Homo sapiens: one gene and its partners. The protein of the gene in region 4 purifies or fractionates together with the protein of the main gene of each other region. This does not show direct contact. Each region holds a gene or a part of one and is shown on either strand. Other genes may lie near its edges.

Region 1 (3,500 bases), on a different chromosome or scaffold from region 4:
ATGTTTCGTTTTTTAAGATGGGAAAAATAACAAACGTTTGTTAAATGGGTGGGAATGATCCAATGAAAAAAGATTTAAATTGGTATGAGGGGCAAAAAAGGGAAGAATACATGGGGCAATATATCGAGTAGGAAAGAGGAGATGGAATCTAGGGCAAAATGAGGAGAGGTTGGTCTTAATTAGGAGCAGGAACAGTTTACTTATAAAAACGGGAACTTTCATAAGCAGAGACCATGGATACAGATACAAGTAGTTGGGTAGATAATGGAATAGAAGTTTGTCGATGTTCTATTTTATTGCTTGACTTATCTGCAAGAAAAACAGGACAATCAGCAGAGAATGAACATAGAAAAGGTGTTGGAGGTGGGAGGAGGGTAAAGGCGGGAAAGAGTTGTCTAGGAGAGCAGGAGTATGAATAAACTTGCAAAGTACAGTGTGACTGTCTGTACTTTACCTGGCATGATGTTTGTCCTTAGTCTTCTCGAGACTACAACCTGGTAGAGAGAAATACTGAGAATAAGCACAAGCACGTACCTGGTGAAATCATGAAAGTAGGTGCAGCTGACTGCCCCACATCCTGCAGAGATTCTAAATGGGAATCCTCACTTATTCCTTTTTGTGTTTGTGCAATTTCCATGTCTTTAATTGGAACTGGTGTTGCCTCTGTTTCTGAGAGTGGTGGAACATCTTTGGCTGGAGTCACATTGTTGGCCAGGGTCAGAACCCCATCCTTAGCCAGGGGTGCTTCTGTTTTGAGGGCTGGGACCTGATCCTCAGTCAGGGCCACCTCCATTTCTGGAGGCAGACATACGTTCTTGATGAGAACTACTTCTGTTTCTGGAGGTGGAGTCACATCCTTGCCCAGAGCCATTTCTGTTTCTGATAGTGGAGACATGTCCTTCAACAAGCCCACTTCTTTTACTGTGGACGGAGCCACATCCTTGGCCGGGGCTATTTCTGTTTCTGGGAGTTGAGCCATGTCCTTGACTGGGGCCACCTCTGCTTCTAAAGGTAGTGCTTTATCCTTGGTCAAGATCACGTTGGTTTCCGGGGGCAGTGTCATGTCCCTGGCCAGGGCTACCTCTGTTTCTGAGGACAAAGCCACCTTCTCAGCAGAGGATATTTCTGTGGATGATATAATGTCATTAGCCTGTGCCACCTCTATTTCTGAGAGTAATACCAAATCCTTGGCTGGGACTATCTTGTTTTCTTTGGGTGGTCCCATGTCCTTGGAAGGAGCCAAGTCCATTTTTATAGGAGATGCCCTCTCTGTTTCTTTCTTGTTTTCTTTGGGTGGTCCCATGTCCTTGGAAGGGGCTAAGTCCATTTTTATAGGAGATGCCCTCTCTGTTTCTTTCAACAGTGTCACATCCTTGGCTGGGGCTACCTCTGTTTCTGTGGGCAGTACCACATTCTTGGCTGAAGATACATCTGTTTCTGTGGGCCATCTGACATCCTTAACCAGGGCCACTTCTTTTTCTGTGGGTAGTTCCATGTCCTTGACTAGGGCCATATCTGATTCCATGGATGGCTGCATGTCCTTGGCCAGTGTCACATCTAATTTGGTGGGTGATTCCATATCTTTAGCCAATGCCACCTCGGTTTTTGTAGCTAGTGCCATGTCCTTGGCGAGGGCCATCTCTGTTTCTTTAGATGGTGCCATGTCAGTAGTCTTCAGTCCCATCATTATTTCCAATGCTTGTGCTGGTGGCCTCTCTTCTGATGCCATTTCTATCTCCTTGGCTAGCTCTAAGGGAACTAAATTGGAAATTTAGGACACATCATTGTCTACTCATACCTTTGCATTAAAAATGCTTACTTTCTTCAGGCATGAGAGTATTTGGCTTTTGTGACCATAAGACTGTACACATAACTAAGAATTAATGTTAGGCCGGGCACAGTGGCTCACGCCTGTAATCCCAGAACTTTGGGAGGCCGAGGCGGATGGATCATCTGAGGTCAGGAGTTCGAGACCAGCCTGACAAACATGGTGAAACCCTGTCTCTACTAAAAATACAGAAATTAGCCATGCAGTGGCAGGCGCCTGTAATCCCAGCTACTTGGGAGGCTGAAGCAGGAGAATTGCTAGAACCCAGGAGGCGGAGTTTGCAATGAACCGAGATCACGGCATTGCACTCCAGCCTGGGGGACAGGGCAAGAGTCCGTCTCAAAAAAAAAAAAAAAAAAAGAAGAAGAAGCTAATGTCAAGTAACATATTCTGCCTACTCTTTGACAGTCTCAACACTTGGAAGAATAAGATGTAAAATACTGGGAGGACAAGTAGTGGAGGAGAAATGGCAAAGAAGAGAGAAAACATAGGCTTCAAAAATAACACGGGCACAGAATTAGTATTAGAAAGATAATCTGTGGGACAGCAGGTCAGTCATGCTTCCTATCAAGAAAAACTCCAGAGTTCTAAATCTGTACTGAATTTTTGTTTTTGTTTTTTGAGACACGGTCTCACGCTGTTGCCCAAGCTGGAGTGCAGTAGCATGATCTCGGCTCCCGGGTTCAAGCAATTCTCCTGTCTCAGCCTCCCTAGTAGCTGGGATTATAGGTACACGCCACCACGCTGAGCTTATTTATTTATTTATTTAGCTCTTTCACCCAGGCTGGAGTGCAGTGGCGCAATCTCGGCTGACAGCAACCTCTGCCTTCCGGTTTCAAGTGATTCTCCTGCCTCAGCCTCCCTAGTAGCTGGGATTACAGGCACCTGCCACCACGCCCAGCTAATTTTTTGTATTTTTAGTAGAGACGGGGTTTCACCATGTTGGCCAGGCTGGTCTCGAACTCCTGACCTCAGGTGATCTGCCCGCCTTGGCCTCCCAAAGTGTTGGGATTACAGGCGTGAGCCACCGTGCCTAGACCAATTTTTGTATTTTTTGTAGAAATGGGGTTTCACCATGTTGGCTGGGCTGGTCTGGAACTCCTGACCTCAAGTGATCTGCCTGCCTCAGCTTCCCAAAGTGCTGGGATTATAAGTGTGAGCCACCACACCAGGCCGTAAATCTGTACTGAATTAAAAAAAAAAATTCTGATACCTAATACAATGAAAATGTGATGAAAAAAATATATATATGTTAAAAAATTTAAAAAAAGTATTTATGTGCCCGTTAACCCTAAGTGTTATAGTTCAACAATTTAATTCCTCCAGTGGTGATATCACTAATATAAGCAAAACATTTGTGATTGTTCTGAAATTTTTATACCTGCTGTAAGCTGCTAAAAAATACACCTGATGATTTATATTGATTACCAATACTGCAACCATTAACTGATAAAGGGAGTCTCTAATAGTTTACCTGCCGTTGGCTGAGGAGGTTCTGCAACAGCCTCTGGGGAAACAAAGGACTCTGAGTGTGGAGAGTTTAAGGCTTCCACAGACCACCCCTGAGGTACAACAGCTGTGTTGCAGGGAGACATACCTAATATTGAAACACAAACAAATACATTTTGAAACTTAGTAAACATTGGAAACAAAAGGTATTTGATATATTTTT
Region 2 (3,500 bases), about 100 Mb from region 4:
AGTTCCGGCTAATACTAAAATAGCTGCAGGGTCCTATTAAGTCAGGAACCCTAGTGTCTTCTCAACAATTCCTACCTTCTAGCCCCTTTGTATCTAGTTGTAAAGCAACATGCTACTCTAAGAACAGCTGTTTATTTTCCAGAAGGGTATTCATTTCCACCAGATTTCAACTTAAAAAAAAATCCTGCAAGAGTGCAAGCTACACTTAACACTTTTTTCTAAGATACAGAACCCACTAGGGAATGCCCTGTTTTCTGACATGTGGGCCTTGCCATCATCCCCCTTAAGGTCACTTCGGGATACTAGATCTGACAACCGAATAATGCTTGAAAATCCCCAAGCATCTCTAACACGTAACTCTTTGAGGATGAGTAGTGCAAGAGAGGGCAGTGCAGGAGCATTCCTGGGCAATCCTAACACTGCTGGAAAGGTTTCTAGAAGTTGTGCCTGTGCTACCTAGAAACTTCTGTTGCCAGCTAGAATGTCGTAACTTCTAGAATACACGTTGGTAAACTCTTAAAAGCCTATCCTTTATTTGCTTCAAGGAAAAGATTTCAGCTCAGAGTCCCATTAAAGCAGAAAAAACACACAATAATCATTTAACTACATGACAGACAGCACTGTAAGTAAATGGCAAAGTAAATGGGCCTCTGTCATCACATATTCAGCCATCTGCCTCCTGAGAAACAAGGGTGCTTACCTTCTTATTATCTTCTTGTTTCAAATGGGGTACCTTGATATAATATAAACTAAATTCCAAAACAGGGCAAAAATAAGAAAATATTTGTCTTAAAGAGACAGCTCAGAACTATATATTTTAAAATAACGGAATTTAGATTTTATACAAAATGTGTGGAAAAATGACAAATTATAGTCACTAAACATAAATTTCATTAAAGACATTATCAAATATCATAGATGCAAATAAAAACAACAATAAAAACTTATGGTTAGAGTAGTATTAAAAATATAAGGCTGAAACCAGATTACATGAGTTGAGCGAGTCGGGAGCAGAGGACCAGCTTGCTGGCTGGTACTGGAATACCACAGAGGCTCCACCACTCATTAGCACAAATGGGGCGGCCGCATGACGCTGACCACAGATATTTATTAGCCAGATTTTATAGTTATAGATAACTGGGGGCACTTAAACAGCTGTAACAGCACTAACTCCAAACAAGAATCAACAGTAAAATTACTTTGGGTAAGCGGCCTGAGTCTGCTGACTAGGAAGGGCTGGGTTTGCGGATGGTGGGACCACTGCCTGGCTGAGAGAAGACAGCTGCTCCGGGGGAAGACTGTAGCTCTGGAGGTGGCTCATCTGCGCGTTCCCTGCAACCAGGTAGGCACCACTTGGAGGAGGCCCTGCATACACCTGCGATGGTTAAAGAGAAATCATATTCAATTCTAAAATTTTAATAAGCATACTGAACTTTCTCTGTAGAGGTATTCAGTTACAAAAACAAGAAAAATCACCACTCTGGAATCCTTTTTTCAAAGTTATTTCTGTCAACGGGCATTTTGAAAAACGCTTTTCAATGAAATAGGCTGTTGATGGTTTTCATTTTTAGTTAAACATATGCTAAACTCATGTTATCTCCATACTGAAGCATTAAAGAAACTTATCCTGAAACTTTATACTAATCTCCCTTTACATTAAATATATTTTAATATTCTGCATGTTGGTATTTTTTAAGGAATCCCAAAGGATATTTAGAAAGTGTATTTGAACTCATTGTTTTGTAGCCATAGACTGCAATGGATACAAGTCACATTTCCTAAACTGCAGTTTATTGAACAATAGAGCAAGCTAACTTTCTAAAGCAGGGGTCAGCAAACTTTTTTGTAAAGGGCCTGACGTAAATATTTTAAGTTTTGTGGACCATGTAGTCTCTGACACAACTACTCGGCTCTGTCAGTAAATCAGAGTGGCTGTGTTCTGATAAAAGTTTATTTAAAGCCGCCAGGCATGGTGGCTCATGCCTGTAATCCCAGCACTTTGGGAGGCCGAGGCAGGCAGATCACGAGGTCAGGAGATCGAGACCATCCTGGCTAACACAGTGAAACCCCGTCTCTACTAAAAATACAAAAAATTAGCCAGGCGTGGTGGCGGGCGCCTGCAGTCCCAGCTACTCGGGAGGCTGAGGCAGGAGAATGGCCTGAACCCAGGAGGCGGAGCTGGCAGCGAGCTGAGATCGCGCCACTGCACTCCAGCCTGGGCGACAAAGCAAGACTCCGTCTCAAAAAAAAGTTTATTAAAAAAAAAAAAAACAGGCAACAGGCTGGATTTGTCTACTTCTGTATTTCAAAATGCATTTTTTTAATCTAAAGAGATTGAAGTCTTAACTACCCAAAGTCTAAAACACATAATGTCCTAATTTTCTGCAGTATTCATTAGATCCTTCCATTTAGCACTTCTGTTAAACGACAGACCCACACAGGGATCCAAAGGGTCTTCATTATAAACACAGCTATACCAGTCCTCCTAACTTTATTTTGTCATTCTTCGAAAATTGAACATGAAGGTTTTTTGCTTCCTTGTCTCAAACTGGTGATCAAGACTCTAAAGCAGGTGCCCTCTAGCCCCAAGTTTCTTGGGCCTAGCTGTTCATCTACAGGGTGCTGGCCCCTCATTCTGCTAAACGTTAATCTGAACACAGTCCGTGCCCACTTTACATGGAAAAAATGGAGTATCTGGCTAGTTTTGTTTTTATTTATTATTATTATTATTATTATTTTTTGAGGTGGAGTCTTGCTCTGTCGCCCAGGCTGGAGTGCAATGGCACGATCTCGGCTCACTGCAACCTCCGCCTCCCGGGTTCATGCCATTCTCCTGCCTCAGCCTCCCAAGTAGCTGGGACTATAGGCACCCACCACCACGCCAGGCTAAATTTTTTGTATTTTGAGCAGAGACAGGGTTTCACCATGTTAGCCAGGATGGTCTCCATCTCCTGACCTCGTGATCCACCCGCCTCGGCCTCCCAACGTGCTGGGATTACAGGTATGAGCCACCGCACCCGGCCAGTATCTGGCTAGTTATTCCCTATAACCTCACCTCACCGTGATGAGTTTGTGAAAAGGGGGTCCTTGAAATAGTTGCTTGGGGTGAAAAGAAAGCAAACGGCTCTACACTGCATTGCATGCATTCTCATGTAAAGCAGGGAAAATTCCAGATTAAAGCAGTTTTTAAATTATGGAAATATATTTTGTTGGTTTGTAATAATAAAAACAGGTTTTTACCTCATTTTTTTTTCACTGCATTTAAGTTTTCCTTTTAAGGATAACTAGAAGTTCATTAGATATTTAAGAGAGTTTTCTTAGCTCTAAAAGCATTTTGTGTTTTTTACGAAACTACTTTATTGAGATATGTCTGACCTGCAAAAGGCTATACATATTGAGTGTACACAACCTGATGAAGAACTAAGGTTCTTAAGTAAATAATTACATACGAAGCTTTAAAAATATGGGCCTCGGCCGGGCGCGATGGCTCACACCTGGAA
Region 3 (4,051 bases), on a different chromosome or scaffold from region 4:
GGTCAGGAGTTCAAAACCAGTCTAGTCAACATGGTGAAACCCCGTGTCAACTAAAAATAAATAAAAATTGCTGGGTGTGGTGGCGGACACCTTTAATCCCAGCTACTCAGGAGGCTGAGGCAGGAAAGCCGCTTGAACCTGGGAGGCAGAGGTTGCAGTGAGCCGAGATCGTGCAACTGCACTCCAGCCTAGGCGGCAGAGTGAGACTCACTCTCAAAAAAAACCAAAAAGCTGGGTGTGGTGGCACATGCCTATAATCCCAGCTACTCGGGAGGCTGAGGCAGGAGAATCACTTGAACCCGGGAGGCGGAGGTTGCAATGAGCTGAGATCACACCACTGCACTCCAGCCTAGGCGACAGAGCGAGACTCCATCTCAAAAAAAAAAAAAGGTGTACAATTCAGTGTTTAAGTATATTCACAGCGTTGTGCAAATACCACCTCTGTCTAGTTCCAGAACACTTGCACCCCCCAAAAGAGGCCACATCACCATCAGCAGTCACTCCCTATTCCTCTTCCCCTAGCCCCTGGTAACCATCAATCTGCTTTCTGTCTCTGTGGCTTTCCCTGTTCTGGACATTTCAGTCCATATCAATGGAATCACAGGCCGGGTGCGATCACTCACGTTTGTAATCCCCGTGCTTTGGGAGGCTGAGGCAGGAGGATTGCTTGAGGCCAGGAGTTCAAGACCAGCCTGGGCAACATAGCAAGAGTCCGTCTCTACAAAATAAAAAATAATTAGGCACAGTGGCTTGTGCCTGTAGTTCCAGCTACTTAGGAGGCTGAGGTGGAAGGATCGCCTGAGCGTAGGAGGCTGAGGCCACAGTGAGCTATGATTGTGCCACTGCACTCCAGCCTGGGCAACAGAACAAGACCCTGTCTCTTAAAAGAAAAAAAAAAAAAGGAAACAAGGAAACAAGGCACCAATACATACATGATACAATGTGGTTGAACCTCAACAACACAATACTAAGTGAAAGAAGCCAGACACAAAAGGCCACACAGTGTGAGAGTACATTTATTTATTTATTTTGGAGACAGGGTCTCACTCTGTCGCCCAGGCTGGAGTGCAGTGGCGAAATCTCGGCTTACTGCAGCCTTGACCTCCTGGGCTCAAGTGATCCTCCCACCTGAGCCTCCTAAGTAGCTGGGACTATAGGTGCAGGCCACCATGCCTAGCTTTTTTTTTTTTTTTTTAAGGCAGGGTCTGACTATGTTGCCCAGGCTGGCCTTGAACTCCTGGGCTCAAGTGATCCTCCCGCCTCGGCCTTCCAAAGTGCTGGGATTACAGGCCTGAGCCACTGCGCCTGGCCCTTCGTTCCTTTTTATGGCTGAATATTCCTCCACTGCATGGATACGCCACATTTTGTTTATCCATTGTCCACAGCTAGACATTTGGGCTGTTTCCACGTTGGGGCTTTTTTTTGTTTTGAGACGGAGTTTTGCTCTTTCACCCAGGCTGGAATGCAGTGGCACAATCTCGGCTCACTGCAACCTCCACCCACCCGGTTCAAGCAATTCTCCTGTTTCAGCCTCCCAAGCAGCTAGGATTACAGGCACCTGCCACCACGCCCGGCTAATTTTTGTATTTTTATAGAGATGGGGTTTCACCATGTTGGCATGTGCCACCATGCCTATCTGATTTTTGTATTTTTAGTAGAGACGGGGTTTCACTATGTTGGCCAGGCTGGTCTCAAACTCTTGACCTCAAGTGATCCGCTTGCCTCGGCCTCTCAAAGTGCCTGGATTACAGGTGTGAGCCACAGTGCCTGGCAATTTCTGCTGTTTAAGCCACCCAGTCTGTGGTATTAGTTATGACAGCCCAAGCTGGAAATACAGACACTTTTCTCTGTGTAGTAAACACTCACTCACTTGCACACGTCATTCAATAAATATGTACTGGGCACCTAATACGTGTGCGATGCTGGGGAAAGAGGTGGCACAAATGAGCTTTCTGCCTGCATGGGACTCCCAGAGAAGAGCCAACACATGCAATCAGAGTCCTAATAAGGACACGCAGGGCGCCGGGGAAGCCCGGAGAGGGCTTCTGACCCAGCCTGGGTCAAAGGGCTTCCTAAAGGAGACATCTAAGGAAAAGTCTGAATGAGTGGGGGAGAGCGCAGCCTGCACGCGGGATGCAGGAGGTAGGCTGGAAAAGGGGGCGATTTGTATTCCAGGGAGATGGGAAGGTGTGGAGGGCGTTAGAGCCGGGAAGCCCAATCTATGGGTCACACAAGCCCTCTGGGGTTAGTGAGGAGGTGGACTCCCCAGATGGCAGGAGCTGGGAGCCCAGGCGGTACCCAGGGAGTGGCTCAGGCTGGGCGAGGGGCACACTTAGAAGCGAATCAAGACCCATGGGGATTAAGACCCCACGGATGTGAAGGTAAAATAACAGAATACAAAATTCAACAATGCCTCCTCTAAGCAGCCCTCCCGGCTATCCCTTTTGAAGTCCCCCACCACTAATCCCCCTACAAGAGGCCGGGGGAGTCCGCGCCCAACTCTGTCCCTCTCGAGACCAGAAGCTGCCTAGGGGCAGTCCGGGGCCAGGTGGCCTCGAACATGCTGTCGCGTCGGGCTTCAATCGTCTAGTCTGGAAATGGGCATCGCCCCCAACTAGGTGCGGTTCAGACTGGACGCCAGAAGTGCTCCTGCCTCCCAGCACCCCTCCTCCAGCCTTCCCAGGGGATGGTCCCAGGCCAAGCAGCCCCCGCCCCGCGCCTCTGCTCCCCGAACCCGGGTTCCGCCCGCGCCGCAGACGCTCCTACCTTCTTACCCCAGCGCCGGCCCGGTCGCGCCTCCGTGACGTCATCATGGGGCCTGCGCGCTGAGCTCCTGGCGGCGCGCACTCATTGCGCCTCAGTACCGCCGCCATTTTGGTAAAGAAAAAGATGGCTGGGCCTCGGACCCAAGCCAGGGTAGTCAGCCACTTCTTTGTCTCTTCAAAAAGAGGACACTTAATACGCCCTCATTCCCTACGCTCATTTAATATGTTGATGAACCAGGAGGGGCGGGCAGAGGCGAAAATCTAGAACATTGCCTTTACCAAGATGGCCGATGCCCGGATGAAAGATGGCAGCTGCGACTACACACGTGGTCCGGCGGCTTCAGCCTGGAGCGGCCCGGCCGCCAGAGCGCGCCCGCGGTCCATGAGGGGAGGTGGACCCAGTATAGCCCTGAGGAAGCCTCTCCGTAGCTCTTCGCAATCCCTTAACGCTTTAAAAGTGCTTTCCTAGTCCTGAGTCTCTGCGTCCCACTGGTGACGCTGGGGCGGGGCTAGGAGAGGGGAGATAAATGGGGCAGAGAAATTAACACACACCGCGCAGTCCAGGTAGGGAAACCGAGGCTCAGAGAGACCAGGAATTGAGTTTGGCCAAAATGTAACCGCGAGTAGGCTCATAACCGCGAGTAGGCTCAAATTCCGTCTCTTGCTCCTGCCAGTGCCTCTTCCTGGATTGCTGACCTGCTCCCCACTTCTGCAATATTATTTATTAATTTTATTTAGAAATTAGGTTTGAGGCGCCAATTTGTCTTAGGCACTATACTTTAGATTTTCTGCATTTACTACTTCTCGGTGTTCTCAACAGTAAAAATGGCAGTATTAGGGGTCTAAGGTTACACTGGTCCTGACTGTGGAGAGGGAAAAGCAAATGCTTTGGGGGCAGTTCAGGTAGGAGTAGTTGACCACAGAGTCCATTCCCTAAAAGGCATCCCCCCAGCGACCTTGCTGGGACCTAAATCCCAGTGCGCGATGCACCTCCCCTGCTCTAACGCCTCCCCTGGGTTCCCATTGTCCCGCAAGACTCCTCCCACCTCCCACCCCATCTCCCTTGGCTTCCCTCACCCTCCCATTAGCTCTCTGCTCAGGTCGCACCAGCCCCCTTCTTACAAATTGCCAGGCGCAGTCTTGCCTCAGGGAGTTCCCCCAGGAATTTCCCAGGTTTTTCCGTGGCCAGTTCCTTCCCTTCAGGCATGAGACAGAAAGGTCTCTGGGTGCAGGGGGCTTAAAGTCGGAAAATCACATGAAAGATTATTATCCTGGCTGGTCGCAGT
Region 4 (3,500 bases):
TCTAATTGTATTATTCTCCAGTCCACATTTCTTAAGTCCTATTCTTCAAGGATATCTCATGAGGGACTTTGCCAAATACCCTAATATCCAAATATATCACTGGCTGCACTGCTTTAATATATAAATCCCACTTGGACAGAAATTCAATTTTCCTACCTAATGATATTCGCTGGTAAAAGAACCCTCACTGGAAGTTGCTCTTTAATTTGGGTGTTAACAAATTTTGTAAAGTTATTTTAAGGAAAATCTTAATCATACTGTGCTCAAGAAATGGGATATGTGGTCAAATTCTGAATTACCTAAAGGTTTACAAAACACAAAGCCCCGCCAAAACACGTAATTTGTGTTTAAATCTCCTAAGACATTTGTCCAATCCCTGCCTTATGACACAGCAATTAATCACCTTACAATGTAAAGTGCTGTACACAATTAAGGCTTTTAACAAAACCCTTAACAACATATTCTCTCAAATCCAGGAACATAAATATATTCTTAATATACAGATTGCCAAAGCTGAAATTTAGAATGTAAGTTTTTCTAATTGCAGGAAGCTAATGATAGCAAATGGGTAGAAAACCTAAACAGTGTAAGTCTGAGTACTGTAAAGTTTAAAAATTAACACCTGCATTTGGAATGTGTTTTTTTTTTTTGTTATTTACTCTGCTTTTAAAAGTAGAATGGAGATTCAGGGGGTAGGATTAGGAAGTGAATAGAGGCTAGTGTAAGGTGTTAGTGTAATTTAGTTTCTTAATTTATTTTCTATCTATAAATCATATCTTTCCCTTTGCTTTTCTTAATTCAAATGATACCTGAAGTAAACATTCCAGATGCAAAAAAAAAAAAAGATAAGGTTTTCAGTAGCAATAATTAGGGCCAATATTACATTACCTCACTTTCTCCCCAATTTTTACTGATTATTAGTAAATACTCTTAATTTCAAGTATGTACAGGGAACAGAACATAAGACACTGTTTCTTTTACAAGCTGGTTTTTGTTTCCTTTTAAGCCTGCACCCCACTGACCTAATTTTAGATTTTAATTTCAGCATTCCCTGAAATGAAAATCATCACCTTAATTAAGTTCTGACATGATTCAGAAGTTTCAGAATATAAAAACACCTCTTAATTAAAAGCCTGGTGAAACAAAGCATTTTAAAATGAGTATTTCACAAAAACATTGTTATTTTAATATAAAATTTAAGATAAGGTTCAAGACCATGCAATGATACACAACTTTTGGAACAAAACTGATTTTCCACTAGGGTAAAACTACTATTTTAAAACCAGAATAGTACAATGATATATAATATATAATTCTCTCCCATATGTATGCATCTATATCTTAAAATTATTTATGACTATTGGATATGCCTGGCACTATAAAACATATGCCAAAATAGAACTTTTAAAATGACAATGTAAAAAACAAACATAAATAGAAACCCTAAATATTTTTCCTGTACATGGTGAAGCATGCTGTGGCTTCAACATGCATTCCCTGGAATATAATATCACCTGAGAGGGTTTGGCTTTTAAGATTTTATTACAGAAAATTTCCAATATATACAAAAGTACAGAGAACAGTAAAATCAACTCAGTGGTAGACCATAAAACATGGTAACAAATTCCTCCTATCCTTATAAGCATATCTCTTTGCAATGTAACTTTACTAAAGCTGCTGCTAGAGGTATAACTTGGTTTCTTCATCCCTCTCTCAGCAACCAATATAACTAGAAAAAAATAAGTGGAGGCACAGGCAACCTCAACATCATCAACCTTGATTTAACTGACACTTATAGAACATTATACTCAACAATGGCAAAATACATTCTTTTCAAGTGTACATGGTAAGTTCACCAGGATGTAGAAGGTCATGAAACAAATATCAGTAATTTTAAAAAGACAGAACTCTTACAAAGCATGTTTTCTGACCATAGTGGAATTAAATTACAAATTAGTAACTAGGAAAACCCCAAATATCTGGAGAGCAAAACAACACACTTCTAAATAATTCATGAGTTAAAGAAAAATCACAAGAGAAATCCAAAAATATTTCAAATGAAATGATGAAAATGCAACCAATCAGAATTTGTGGGATGCAACTAAAGTAGTGTTTTAGAGGAAATTTATAGTTTTAAATGCTTATATAGGGGGGAAAATCTAAAATTAGTGACCTAAGTCCCCATTTTAAGAAATTAAACCCCAAAGTAGAAGCAAAGAAATAATAAAGAACAGAAACCAATGGAACAGATACTTAAATAATAGAGAAATCAATAAAAGCTGACTCAATAAAATGACCAATAAAACTGGTAAGCCTATAGGCTAAACTGATCAAGAAACAAGAGAGAAGACACATATTACCAAATAAATGGCTATTACCAAAAAGACAAAAAAAAAAAAAAAAAACAAAAAAACAAATATTGACAAGGATGTGGAAGAAGAGGAACTCCTATACACTGTTAGTGGGAAAGTAGATTAGTTACAGCTATTATGAAAAACAGTACAGTGGTTCCTCAAAAATTTAAAAATAGAACTAGCAATGATCCAATAATCCCACTATTGGGTATATAGTCAAAGAAAATGAAATTGGTATGATGAAGATATACTTGCACTTCCTTGATTACTGCAGTACTATTCACAAGAGCCAAGCTATGGAATCAACCTAAGAGTCCATCAATGGATAAATGGATAAAAAATGTGCGGTATACAAACACAGTGGAATACTATTCAGCCACAAAAAACAAAACCCCAGAGAAAAGTCATTTATGACAACATGGATGAACCCAGAGGACATTATGTTAAGTGAAATAAGCCAGGCAGAGAAGGACAAATACTGTATGATCTCACTCATATGTGGAATCTAAAAAACTTGATCTCATAGAAATAGACGTAGAAGAGTGGTTACCAGAGGCTGGGGAGAATAGGGGGAGTGGGGAGATCAGAAGTGGCTATAAAAAGTTACAGTTAGGAGGTATAAGTTCTGATGTTCTATTGCACAATAGGGTAACTATAGTTAATAATGTATTGTATATTCCAAAATAGCTGGAAGAGATTATTTTTAATATTTTCACCACAAAGAAATGTTTGCGGTGATGGCTATGCTAGTTATCCTGATTTGATCACTTGAGCTGGGAAGGTGGAGGTTGCATTGAGCCATGACTGCACCACTACAGTCCAGCCTGGGCAACAGAGCTAGACCCTGCCTCAAAAACAAAAAAAACCCACCACCACCAACAAAACCCAAAAAAGACTGAAAATGAACTCAGTGGTAGACCATAAAACATGGTAACAAATTCCTCCTATTCTTATAAGCATGTCTCTTTGCAATGTAACTTTACTAAAGCTGCTGTTAGAGGTAAAACTTGGTTTCTTCATCCTCTCAGCAACCAATATAACTAGAAAAAAGAAGTGGAGGCACAGGCAACCTCAACATCATCAACCTTGATTTAACTGACACTTATAGAACATTATACTCAACAATGGCAAAATACATTCTTTTAA
Region 5 (3,500 bases), on a different chromosome or scaffold from region 4:
TAAAATGCCACTGTTCCATTTTCCTAACCTTCAGAAGTAACTGTGTACCTTCCCTATTGTGCTTCTTCAATTAAGAGCTATAAAATTTATATAGCTTTAATTATAAAACCTAACATTAAAAAGTTACTTATATATAAAACTACCAGCCACATGACCAAAAATCTAAATTTTAATTTAAACCCCAAAATTACAAAGTTTTTGGGTAAGATTAAATTGTGTTAAGTATTGTTTTACTCTTATCACTCTTCTTTGAAATATGATAAACTATGATATTTAATATAGTTTCTTGATTAATAAAAATATTTAATAAGCTACAATACAGATCTTTAAAGTACACTGGATAAATGAGAATTCTGTACTTGCCCAACCACCTAACCCATCTCAGCAAAAAGTTCAAAGCTTTTTGTTCCTTAGTGACCATTTCTCCAATTTCCCAATTGTTTTTGATGTTGTTCTAAATGTATCCTTAATATGTCTCCTTAAGGAGTCTTTCAGAGCATCCATTGCTCTCCATAGGGCCTTTATGTAACTAGGAAAAATACATCCTTCTGGGGAAATACAGACACTTTTGGCAAGGAGCTGATGCCTTGGAGAGAGAAGTGGAGGCACAGTTCCCTCTGCGAGGCCTAAGCTGGGGCACAGGACTCTGTAAGCAGAACACAGGCTGACTTGTTGCTTCCTTCAGTCCAGCATCTTTGGGCAGTATACAAGCTGCATAACCATATATAGCAGCCCTGTACCTTCAGATTGTTCACTGGCAAACAGGGAAGAAAAAATGAATTATTAACTTATCTAGATACCCATTCTCCAACCACATACATGTATCCATCTCTTATCCTTCAGACTCAAGATTTATTCAGAAGGGATCTTCCAACCTTATAGGGAACGTATCTTCCCCTTTATCTTTAATTTTCCCTTTTCGTGGTTCTCTTTTCTGCTTTAAATATGGTCAAGACTCATGTCTTGATATTGTGTAATATCAAAGAATATTAAATTCAGAAGATATATAGAAATACATAAATGTACTCTTTGCAATAGTCCTCTGAGATAGGGGAAATGGATATTATCCTTGTATCACAAATCAATATATTTAAAACTTAAGCCAGGTTAACTTGCCCCAAAATTAACAGCTGGCACAAAGTGACAAAAAGGACTAAACCTAGGTTTTAAAACAATTAGTCTAGAGTCCACTTTGAGTATTCAATATATCTAAAAATCAAGAGATTTTCCCTCTTCCCCCTTTAACCTTCCACTTTTGTAACTTGACCTAGATTATTTTAAGGTCACCAAGGATATCACAGCCAAATCCAAAGACTACTTGTCACATATTTTTCTGAACTCTGCTACATTTAGCTCTAATAATCCTGTTTTTAGATTATCCTCTTCTGCCCTGATTTCTATAGTGACTTCCTTCTTATTTTGTCTTGTTCTTCCCTTGCCATAGACTGTCCTAGACATCCTATTACATTTCTCTATCTAAATAAACCTACTCCTTTGCGGTTTATCATGAAAGTGGTTGTCTCAAGTATGTAGTTAAGACTAATTCATATCTCTATTCCTGTAATGCTGCCATTTCCTATTTTATCAATCTATTCCATTCTAGGCTTTCGACCTTCATTAACTGTACCTGTGGCCTGATCCTATCCAGTATTCATTTCTTATAGCAGTAATGTCCCAAAGGGTGGAATACAAAGACTGGTAGTATACTGGATGATTTTAAGTGATCCACAGAAAATTATGTAAAATCATGTTTATTTTAAAACATGTTGGGGGGAAGCTAATGCCAAATAATCATAAAAATTTCCTTTTAAACGGCAGGATGCAGTGGCTCACGCCTGTAATCCCAGCACTTTGGGAGGCCAAGGTGGGCGGATCACGAGGTCAGGAGTTCGAGACCAGTCTGACAACATGGTGAAACCCCATCTCTACTAAAAATACAAAAATTAGCCAGGCGTGATGGCAGGCACCTGTAATCCCAGCTACTCAGGAAGCTGAGGTAGGAGAATCACTTGAACCCGGGAGGGAGAGGTTGCAGTGAGCCAAGATAGCGCCACTGCACTCCAGCCTGGGCAACGGAGTGAGACTCCATCTAAAAAAAGAAAAAAAAAATTCGTTTAAATTCATTTAATTAAAAGACAGCAAGTTGAATTGAAGAAAAATATTAAGTAACAGGCAGATGGTTTGGGACGAAGCAGAAATTGTGAATGATTTAAGTTTGGAAAATACTGGCCACTAGGAAACCCATGTAGTTGAGTTAGGCACTCAGGCTCTGGATCAATAATTCAAATGCCATTTCTACCACTTAAAAGCTAAGTAACTTTGAGCAAATTACTTAAATCTCTTCCTTTTAGGCTTTCTGCAATATGGATTTAAATAGATCATTCAAAAAATAGTCTTAGTTTAGTAACATGGCATAGTAAGTGCTCAAGAAATATTAATAATCACAATTATTCTTGATTTTTCTTAGACATCACAGCTTCACTTATAATCAACTAGGAACTCAATCTGTACTATCTGTAATTTTCTGTACCAAATTTCCCTTACCTTCTTATACACCTTTTTATCTTCTGGCATGAATCCAAAGACTACAAGATAACTTTTAACATTAATCCTTAAGGCTGTGAACACCTTGGGAGTGGACCAAATGCCATATTGCTCTGATTCACTGGGCCTTACAAAATTAAAAGAATCTTCAATCTTTGTTGAATAAGCTAAAAATTTTAAAAATCAGATGTAAATAAATCTCACAATGCATATTATTTAACACAAACTCTTCGAAGGTTACCTGTGATACTATTCTTAGAGGTAAAGGAAAAAAAACCTGACAGCATTTTCTTTTGCTCCAATAATATACTTATCAGTTAATCTTGTGGGTCTATTCTTTTGTGTTTCTCACCCTCATTCATTCAATAACATATAAACTCTAGGTATACGCCAACCACCATACAAGGTGATGAGGACATGGAAACAGTCTAGTAGAGGAAAACAAACTAGTATTAGAACACAGAAAACAGAAAAATTACCAGATAGTATGTAGTACATATTGCTATGTAGTATGCTACATACATAATACCCAATAGTTTTTTTAATACTAGACGTGCTCCTCAAATGATATTCCATCTTCCCTTAATGTTGAGCACATAGCAGCACCACACAGGGATGAGTATATCACACTGACTATAATTCACATAATAATTTCATTACAATCTTGTGTTCAGACTCTTAGTTAACAGTCTAAGAGTCTAGTTAATCATGTCTGCCAATCAGATAAAAATTTCCGGTTGAAACTAAGTAACAGTCCTTGTTTGACTGGATTTGCCAGCAAATACATGTAGTCACAGGCCCCAAAACATGCTTTCTGATAATCTGGAGGAAAATAAGGACTAGAAATGTAACTGGCAATGCTGGGAGCAATGGTAGGCACTTCTAGTCCCAGCTACCTGGGAGGCTGAGGCAGGAGATTCTCTTGAGCCCAGGAGTTGGAGGCCAGCCAGGGCAAC
Region 6 (3,500 bases), on a different chromosome or scaffold from region 4:
GTGGAAAGAGAGTCTGTGTCGATAGGCTAAGTGACCTGACTCCATTGGAAAGGCCTCAGAACTCAGGGGCGGAGGCTGGGCCAGGCCTCAGCTGACCCCTGCTGCCTCTCTGAGCTAGGAGGGCACAGCAGCAGCAGGAGACTCACCTTCGGGGATGGTATCCTCCTGGTACACAGGCCGGAGCAGCTGCAAGGGAAAGACAGGAAAACCACCTCAGCCCCAGGAACAGGGCAGGACAGCCCAGGAGGCTGCTGGACACGGGGGCCCCAGGGGAGAGGAAGTGGAGCACCTCAGGGCACAAGAGAAAAACAGCAGTTCTGGTAACCAGCTGAGGGAGGAGGCTGGGAGAGAACACAAAATCCCAGAATATTCAAGTTGAAAGAGGCTTTATGGGTCATGAAGCCTAACCCCTTGGCAAGTCCCCAACTTCCTTTACAGCAGCTGGTTCCAAAGTGCATTCTAGGGAACACTGGAATGGTAAGACGGTACCAACCACGCCCTAAAGTGTGCCCCCATTAGGCAAGTTTGGGAAATGCGGTGTTATTTGGTTGACACCTGCTGTAGTACAGGATGCCAGCAGAGCCTCTACTAGGCTCCTTTGCATTGAGAATCTCCTAGATGAGGAAGAGGGTATGGGATATGTCGCAAGCTTATTTGACCTCAGAACACCTTTTTCCCAGAGCATCTCATGGGACTAATGTTTTGGGGAGCGCACTCCATCATCCCACCATGCAATCATGCAGTGTCTGCTTTCATACCTCCTATGATGGGGGCTCACCACCTACCAAGGCAGCCCATTCCACTGGGGAAAAGCACAGGCTAGTAGAAAGCTCTTCCTTCTGTGAGTTGAAATCTTCCAGCCTGTGCATGCCCTGGTCTTGAATCTGTGCCCTGAGGCCACATAGACCCATCTGTCCTCCCTACCAAGAACAGCCTTGCAGAAGGCAGAGCTAGCACATACCCCATCTCCTTGCCCAACATCGCAGCCCCTCACAGGCTGCTCATCACACAACTTTGGGTCTTCAAGTCTTCCTGGCCTCCCACAGGGACCCAGTACCCTTCACCTTCCCCACACCAGCTGTCCGTACCTGGCTCCCAGGATTCAGCGGGGCCAGGATGATGTAGTTGGGGTCGGTGGGGGCAGTGGCACGGGACAGTGCAGGCAGGGTGTGCTGGCCCCCGCGCTTGGCCACCTCGGTGTAGCGCTCCCAGCCGCCGAGCAGCAGCCCATCAGAGCTGTCACATACCAGGTGGCAGCTGTGGCGCTGCTCAGGCCGTGCCTGGACCCCATGGGTGCAGTTCTTCTCCCGTTTGTTGGGGGGTGACTGGAGGTCATGTGTCGACTTGCAGGAGGCCCGCCGCAGGACCCCGCCATCTGGTCCTGGCTTGACCTGGGGGACCATGCGCCACACGAGTAGGATGATCTCACTGGGGCAGCTCCTGGAAGGTGGGGGATCACACAGACAGGTTGAGCCTGGGGAAAGCCAGTATCAGCCAGAGTGAGGGCCCACAGGGCAGAGAGGATAATGGGGGAAGAGGAGGCAGACACCAGAGGGGAAGCCCCCAGTGTCAGGGCAGGAAGGGATGCAAGAAGCCATTTAAAGAAGAGACAGCAAATGGGTCACCTAGGTCAATTCCTATTGACGGGCAGTGGTTGAGAAGGACCCTGAGGCCAGGCCAGTTTCAACAGGAAAGAGTTCCATACTCAATCCATGATGCTTATCAAAAGCAAGATATAAGCAAGTAAAGCTAGCAGGTCACCTAAGTGCAAGCCCTCATCTGGTTATTCCAGAAGCAGACCTAAAATGGGGCCATCGGGGTTTTACCCTAGAGGATCAAAATTTGGGAGACTCCAATGTTTTCAAGAATATTTTTTTAATTGTGCAATTGAAACATTTGCAACATCTTCATGCCCTTAAATAACAAATGGGCTTAGCTCTTAGGTAACAAAAATTAGCTAAAGCAGAAAGCAACCTCCTGGTGCCCCGTCCTGAACCACAGAGTCTGAGAGCATCTTCCCTGCTGTTTGCTCTGGAATCCAAAAGTGCTCTGAGCCTGAACCTTCCATTCTCAGGCCAAGAAACAGATTCCTTGAAGAGCAAAAGGAATTGCCTGCTCACAGCTAGGCAAAAGAGGGAGCAGCAAGAGCTGGGCCAGGCAAGGCAGTGTGCCCAGGGGTGGGGAGGGTGTGCCATCAGCCTGAGGCCCCAGGCCACCCGCTGTCCCCTGTCACCGGATCTCGTGGGCCAGCTCCACACATTTCCAGTGCTCCACAGGCCTCTCATTCAGCTGCAGCACCGTGTCCAGCTGCTGCAGCCCTGCCCGTTCCGCCGGACCCCCTGCAGGGACAAAGAAAAGCCATTCAGGGGCCCCTGAAGCCTAAGACCCCTTCAAAGGATCTGGAGTCCTTTGCTGCCATGGTGACCTCAGACAAGGACCTCCCTTTTTCTCTAAGTTTCTTCATCCGTGAAATGAGGGACTGAACTTGGTGCCTCTCAAGAGCCTTGAAAGAAGGCATCCCTTTGCCTTCCCTTCTCCCTGCTTGCCTCCCCTACTGCTGGCTTACCTCCCCTACTGCTGGCTTACCTCTCTGCAGTCCACCCTTCTACCCGGGCCCTTACCCCTCCCCAGGGCCTCCTACCCCATTGAGAACCTTCCCTGGGGCCAGGCTCCCACACTACATTTATTCCTTCTCTGCCAATCATTGTGCACGAACCTCATGCCCACCCTTGTGTAGGCACTGGAAACACCCTGACCACTGAGCCCTGGCTTCTGTCTTTGAGATGCTCACTCTGTGATTAAGAGAAATCTTCATTTGTGAAAAGTAGGGAAGGATGGCTCTTTTTAAGTGCTGATCAGGCTCTGGATAGGATACAAAACAGCTTCAAATAGAGTTCACAAATGACTCTCATTTTCCCTTGCAGCCATTGCTGAAAATATAGGTTTAGTTCCTGTTCAAACTGATTGGGAAACAAAATATAAAAACCTATTTTCATTTTGATAAAAACAACAAAAAAAAAGTGGGCATATTTTCATAAATGGCAGTTTCATCTACGGTCACTTAAAAATATTATTCTTTTCATTTTGAAAAGCCAGGACACTTTGCTCCAGTTTGGGGCTCCCCTTTTAGTTCCAGACTATGTTTGCAAAGCCCACATGTGTGGTGGGCAAGTGGGGTTGGCATCCCCCTGTCAATAACTTACCGGAATCCACGGCCTGGACTCGAACTGGAGAGTCGCAGCAGATGGTGAAGCCAAAGCCGTCCTTTCCCCTCGGGATGGTGATCTAGGACACAGCCCTGCCCGGTCACTGCCAGAAGCTGGAGGCTCTTGCCTCTACCCCAAGGTCAGGAAGCCCACAGCCCACCCCTGCCAAGAGCCACCCTCCTCTCCAAGGGAACTGGAGGCACAAAGGAGCTAGCCAGCCCCTCAGTGTCCCTATCTCAGCCCAGACAACTTGAGCACTGGGTTGTGGGCCAAGCAGGAAGGCCCAAAGCTCAG
Region 7 (3,500 bases), on a different chromosome or scaffold from region 4:
CCCATATTGATCTTGTTTAAGGAAAAAGTAGACGGGCACGGTGGCTCACGCCTGTAATCCCAGCACTTTGGGAGGCCAAGGCAGGCAAATCATGAGGTCAGGAGATCGAGACCATCCTGGCTAACACGGTGAAACTCCATCTCTACTAAAAAATACAAAAAATTAGCTGGGCGTGGGGGCGGAGCCCTGTAGTCCCAGCCACTTGGGAGGCTGAGGAGTGGCGCGAACCCGGGAGGCGGAGCTTCCAGTGAGGCGAGATCACCACTGCACTCCAGCCTGGGTGACACAGCACGACTCCGTCTCAAAAAAATAAAAATAAAAATAAAAGAAAAAAGTAAAAAGATAAAATCAATTTAAAGGATAAGATAAATTAATTTTATTCCATTGATTTTCTTTTATCCATTAAATTAAAAAGAAAAAATTAAGCTTAGAAAGGAAAAGTAACCCATGTTAACTTCACAGGGCTGATTTTAAAAGAAAACAACAATATGCTTATTATTTGAATTCAAAGAAATGGTACAAAAATTCAAGAAAACTAGAATTCATAAAAGACCATAACCTATACTTTAATTCATTTTGTCCTATTCTCATAGTTAGCTTCTTTACTAATCCCTTATGTCATTCAACAAATAAAACACCCTATAGAATCAGAAGAGTTCTTTGCACAAAGTCTAAATCTTGGGGAGGCAAGACAAATACAGAATTTTTTTTAAGAGACAGGGTCTAACTCTCACATAGGCTAGAGTACAGTGGCATGATCATAGCTCACAGGCTGAAGTGATCATCCCACCTCAGCTTCCTGAGTAGCTGGGAATACAAGCCCACAACACTAAACCTGGCTAATTAAAAAAAATTTTTTAGAGACTGGGCCTCACTGTGTCACCTAGGCTGCTCTCGAACTCCTGGGCTCCAGTAATCCCCCCAACTCAGCCTTCTGAGTAGCTGGGATTACCACTGTGCCAGGCCGAACACAGAAATTTTTAAATAAATGTCACAATTCACTGTGAAAGATACTTAGCCAGTTAGCGAATGAGTAAAGGACTTGAAAAGAACTCACAAAAACAACACAGAAAAATGCTCAGTCTTATTAATTACTACTACAGGTATCTATTATAGGTAATTACACTTAAATGTCTAATAAACAACTCAGACCTACCATGTTCAAAACCTAAATTTTTTTTATGACAGGGTCTTGGCTGGGCACAGTGGCTCACGCCTGTAATCTCAGCACTTTGGGAGGCCGAGGCAGGTGGATCACCTGAGGTCGGGAGTTCAAGACCAGCCTGACCAACATGGAGAAATACCAAGACCAGCCTGACCAACGTGGAGAAACCCCGTCTCTACTAAAAATATAAAATTAGCCGCATATGGTGGCGCATGCCTGTAATCCCAGCTACTCAGGAATCTGAGGCAGGAGAATCGCTTGAACCCGGGAGGCGGAGGTTGCGGTGAGCCAAGATCGTGCCATTGCACTCCAGTCTGGGCAACAAGACTGAAACTCCATCTCAAAAAAAAAAGGTCTTGCTCTGTCACCCAGGTTGGAGTGCAGTGACACAATCACAGCTCACTGCACCCTCAACTTCCTGGGCTCAAAGGATCCTCCCAGCCTCAAGGGAACCTCCCATCTCAGCCTCTCAAGTAGCTCATATTACAGAAACGTGCTACCACATCCAGCTAATTTTTTGTGTTTAAGAGATGGAGTCTCACTGTGTTGACCAGGCTGATCTTGGACTCTTGGACTCAAGAGATCCTTTCGCTTCGGCCCCTCAAAGTGCTGGGATTGTTAAGTGTGAACCACCACGCCCACTCAAAACCGAAAAACTGAATTCCCATTTCCTAGCCCATTTCCAAATCTATTCCCAATCTGTATCTTCCCAACTAAACAAATGGCTCCTCCATACATTTAGTTCAGGAGTTGGTAAACGTTTTCTGGAAAGGGCCAAATAAGAATTATTTTAATCTCTGCAGACCATACAATCTGTCATAACTACTCAATGATGCTGTTGTAGTGGGAAAGCAGCCACAGTTAAGTGCCAGACGTGGGATTCAAACCATACCACTCTGGCTCCATACTCCAGGTTTTAATTACATTCTCCAAACAAAACTGCCTTCACCAACCTTGGTGGAGCTTGGATTCACAACCCCTGCTTTAGAATACTAATCTTTTATCCTTTAGAATACACTATACAATTGCATAAATTCTAAAATCAGAACTAGATTAAATTTACAAAGGCACATGAACAGAGAGTTCAGAAAAAAGTGAGAAAACAAAAACATGATTAGGTGATAGCCTCATTTTCCTTTTGTTACATATTGCCGAGACAGTAAATTTTAAAATGGGCTGGGCACAGTGCCTCACACCTGTAATCCTAGCACTTTCAGATGCTGAGCTTGGGAGGCCTGCTTGAGGGCAGGAGTTCAAGACGAGCCTGGGCAACAGGATGAAACCCTATCTCTACCAAAAAAAAAAAAAAGAGATAATAATTAGCCAGGCATGGTGGCAGGCACCTGTATTGCCAGCTACTCAGGAAGATTGCTTGAGCCTACAAAACTTGAGGCTGCAGTGAGCCATGACCATGCCACTGCACTCCAAACTGAGTGGCAGAGTAAGACTCTGTCTCTTAAAATTTAGGTGGTAGGGAAATTAGCAAAAGTTTCGTGCGATGAAAAGGAATGGTACAGAAGAGCAATGGCTGGGAACAACTGATAGGTATGAATTAAAAGTTGAAATATGTGAAGAAAAGCTTTCCAGAGAAACAGTATAGCATAAATAAAAAAAAAAAAAAAATTCTAGAACAGTAAAGTCTGACTGGAGAAAACAAGATTGGAGAAGTAAAATACAGGATCTTAGTCTGGCAGGTCTATAATCCTCTGATGAAGATCTTAAATATATATGCAAAAGTTAATCACAGGTTACAAGCAAGAGTAGAATAAAAAACAGCTCTAAGAATAACCTAGGGAAAGTAAACAGAAAGCAATAAAGGAATAAATTTTTCAGGAAGGTAAACTATTAAGGCAACTGCAGTATAAAACAGTATAAACATGTTTTAAGGAGCTAAATTAATCAGGTGGTAGAATCACAAAATGTTTAAAATATATACTAACTCGGAACATCAATACTGAACTCATTCTAAAAATAACTTCAATCATCTTCTAAATCTAATAATGAAGTCCAAATGCACATGAGCACTATACAATAGCATCTAGTCAACTATGGCATTGTGACACACTATCACTGTTATAAAGAGTGAAATATTACTCAAGCAGCCACAGTACCCAAGTTTATACATGATTTGTTCTTACAAATTATAACCGATCAAACATTACACTTAATACTACCATGGGCCGGGCGCAGTGGTTCGCGTCTGCAATCCCAGCACTTTGGGAGGCAGAGGCGGGCACATCACTCGAGGTCAGGAATTTGAGACCAGCCTGGCCAACATAGTGAAACCCCGTCTCTACTAAAAATACAAAAATTAGCTGGAGATGGTAGCACACGC

The links.
Region 1: the proteins of PDZD8 (region 4) and MAP4 purify together in Homo sapiens (affinity purification with mass spectrometry; one large-scale study listed by BioGRID and IntAct). This does not show direct contact.
Region 2: the proteins of PDZD8 (region 4) and STAM purify together in Homo sapiens (affinity purification with mass spectrometry; one large-scale study listed by BioGRID and IntAct). This does not show direct contact.
Region 3: the proteins of PDZD8 (region 4) and CCDC124 purify together in Homo sapiens (affinity purification with mass spectrometry; one large-scale study listed by BioGRID and IntAct). This does not show direct contact.
Region 5: the proteins of PDZD8 (region 4) and PRRC2C purify together in Homo sapiens (affinity purification with mass spectrometry; one large-scale study listed by BioGRID and IntAct). This does not show direct contact.
Region 6: the proteins of PDZD8 (region 4) and RGS3 purify together in Homo sapiens (co-immunoprecipitation; one large-scale study listed by IntAct). This does not show direct contact.
Region 7: the proteins of PDZD8 (region 4) and ST13 purify together in Homo sapiens (affinity purification with mass spectrometry; one large-scale study listed by BioGRID and IntAct). This does not show direct contact.

Annotation. Positions count from the first base shown.
Region 1 is NC_000003.12:47,915,417-47,918,916, forward strand, and holds part of MAP4 (microtubule-associated protein 4), read right to left. Parts: intron 3,426-3,500; coding exon 3,303-3,425; intron 1,759-3,302; coding exon 535-1,758; intron 1-534. UniProt on the Homo sapiens protein: Non-neuronal microtubule-associated protein. Promotes microtubule assembly.
Region 2 is NC_000010.11:17,706,651-17,710,150, reverse strand, and holds part of STAM (signal transducing adapter molecule 1), read right to left. Parts: intron 1,376-3,500; coding exon 1,200-1,375; intron 1-1,199. UniProt on the Homo sapiens protein: Involved in intracellular signal transduction mediated by cytokines and growth factors. Upon IL-2 and GM-CSL stimulation, it plays a role in signaling leading to DNA synthesis and MYC induction. May also play a role in T-cell development.
Region 3 is NC_000019.10:17,931,764-17,935,814, reverse strand, and holds the start of CCDC124 (coiled-coil domain-containing protein 124), read right to left. Parts: upstream 2,801-4,051; 5' UTR 2,767-2,800; intron 720-2,766; exon of another isoform or gene 624-719; intron 1-623. UniProt on the Homo sapiens protein: Ribosome-binding protein involved in ribosome hibernation: associates with translationally inactive ribosomes and stabilizes the nonrotated conformation of the 80S ribosome, thereby promoting ribosome preservation and storage.
Region 4 is NC_000010.11:117,291,941-117,295,440, forward strand, and holds part of PDZD8 (PDZ domain-containing protein 8), read right to left. Parts: exon of another isoform or gene 1,524-3,500; intron 1-1,523. UniProt on the Homo sapiens protein: Molecular tethering protein that connects endoplasmic reticulum and mitochondria membranes. PDZD8-dependent endoplasmic reticulum-mitochondria membrane tethering is essential for endoplasmic reticulum-mitochondria Ca(2+) transfer.
Region 5 is NC_000001.11:171,488,530-171,492,029, reverse strand, and holds part of PRRC2C (protein PRRC2C), read right to left. Parts: intron 1-3,500. UniProt on the Homo sapiens protein: Required for efficient formation of stress granules.
Region 6 is NC_000009.12:113,505,227-113,508,726, reverse strand, and holds part of RGS3 (regulator of G-protein signaling 3), read right to left. Parts: intron 3,286-3,500; coding exon 3,204-3,285; intron 2,340-3,203; coding exon 2,234-2,339; intron 1,441-2,233; coding exon 1,089-1,440; intron 187-1,088; coding exon 147-186; intron 1-146. UniProt on the Homo sapiens protein: Down-regulates signaling from heterotrimeric G-proteins by increasing the GTPase activity of the alpha subunits, thereby driving them into their inactive GDP-bound form.
Region 7 is NC_000022.11:40,836,140-40,839,639, forward strand, and holds part of ST13 (hsc70-interacting protein), read right to left. Parts: intron 1-3,500. UniProt on the Homo sapiens protein: One HIP oligomer binds the ATPase domains of at least two HSC70 molecules dependent on activation of the HSC70 ATPase by HSP40. Stabilizes the ADP state of HSC70 that has a high affinity for substrate protein.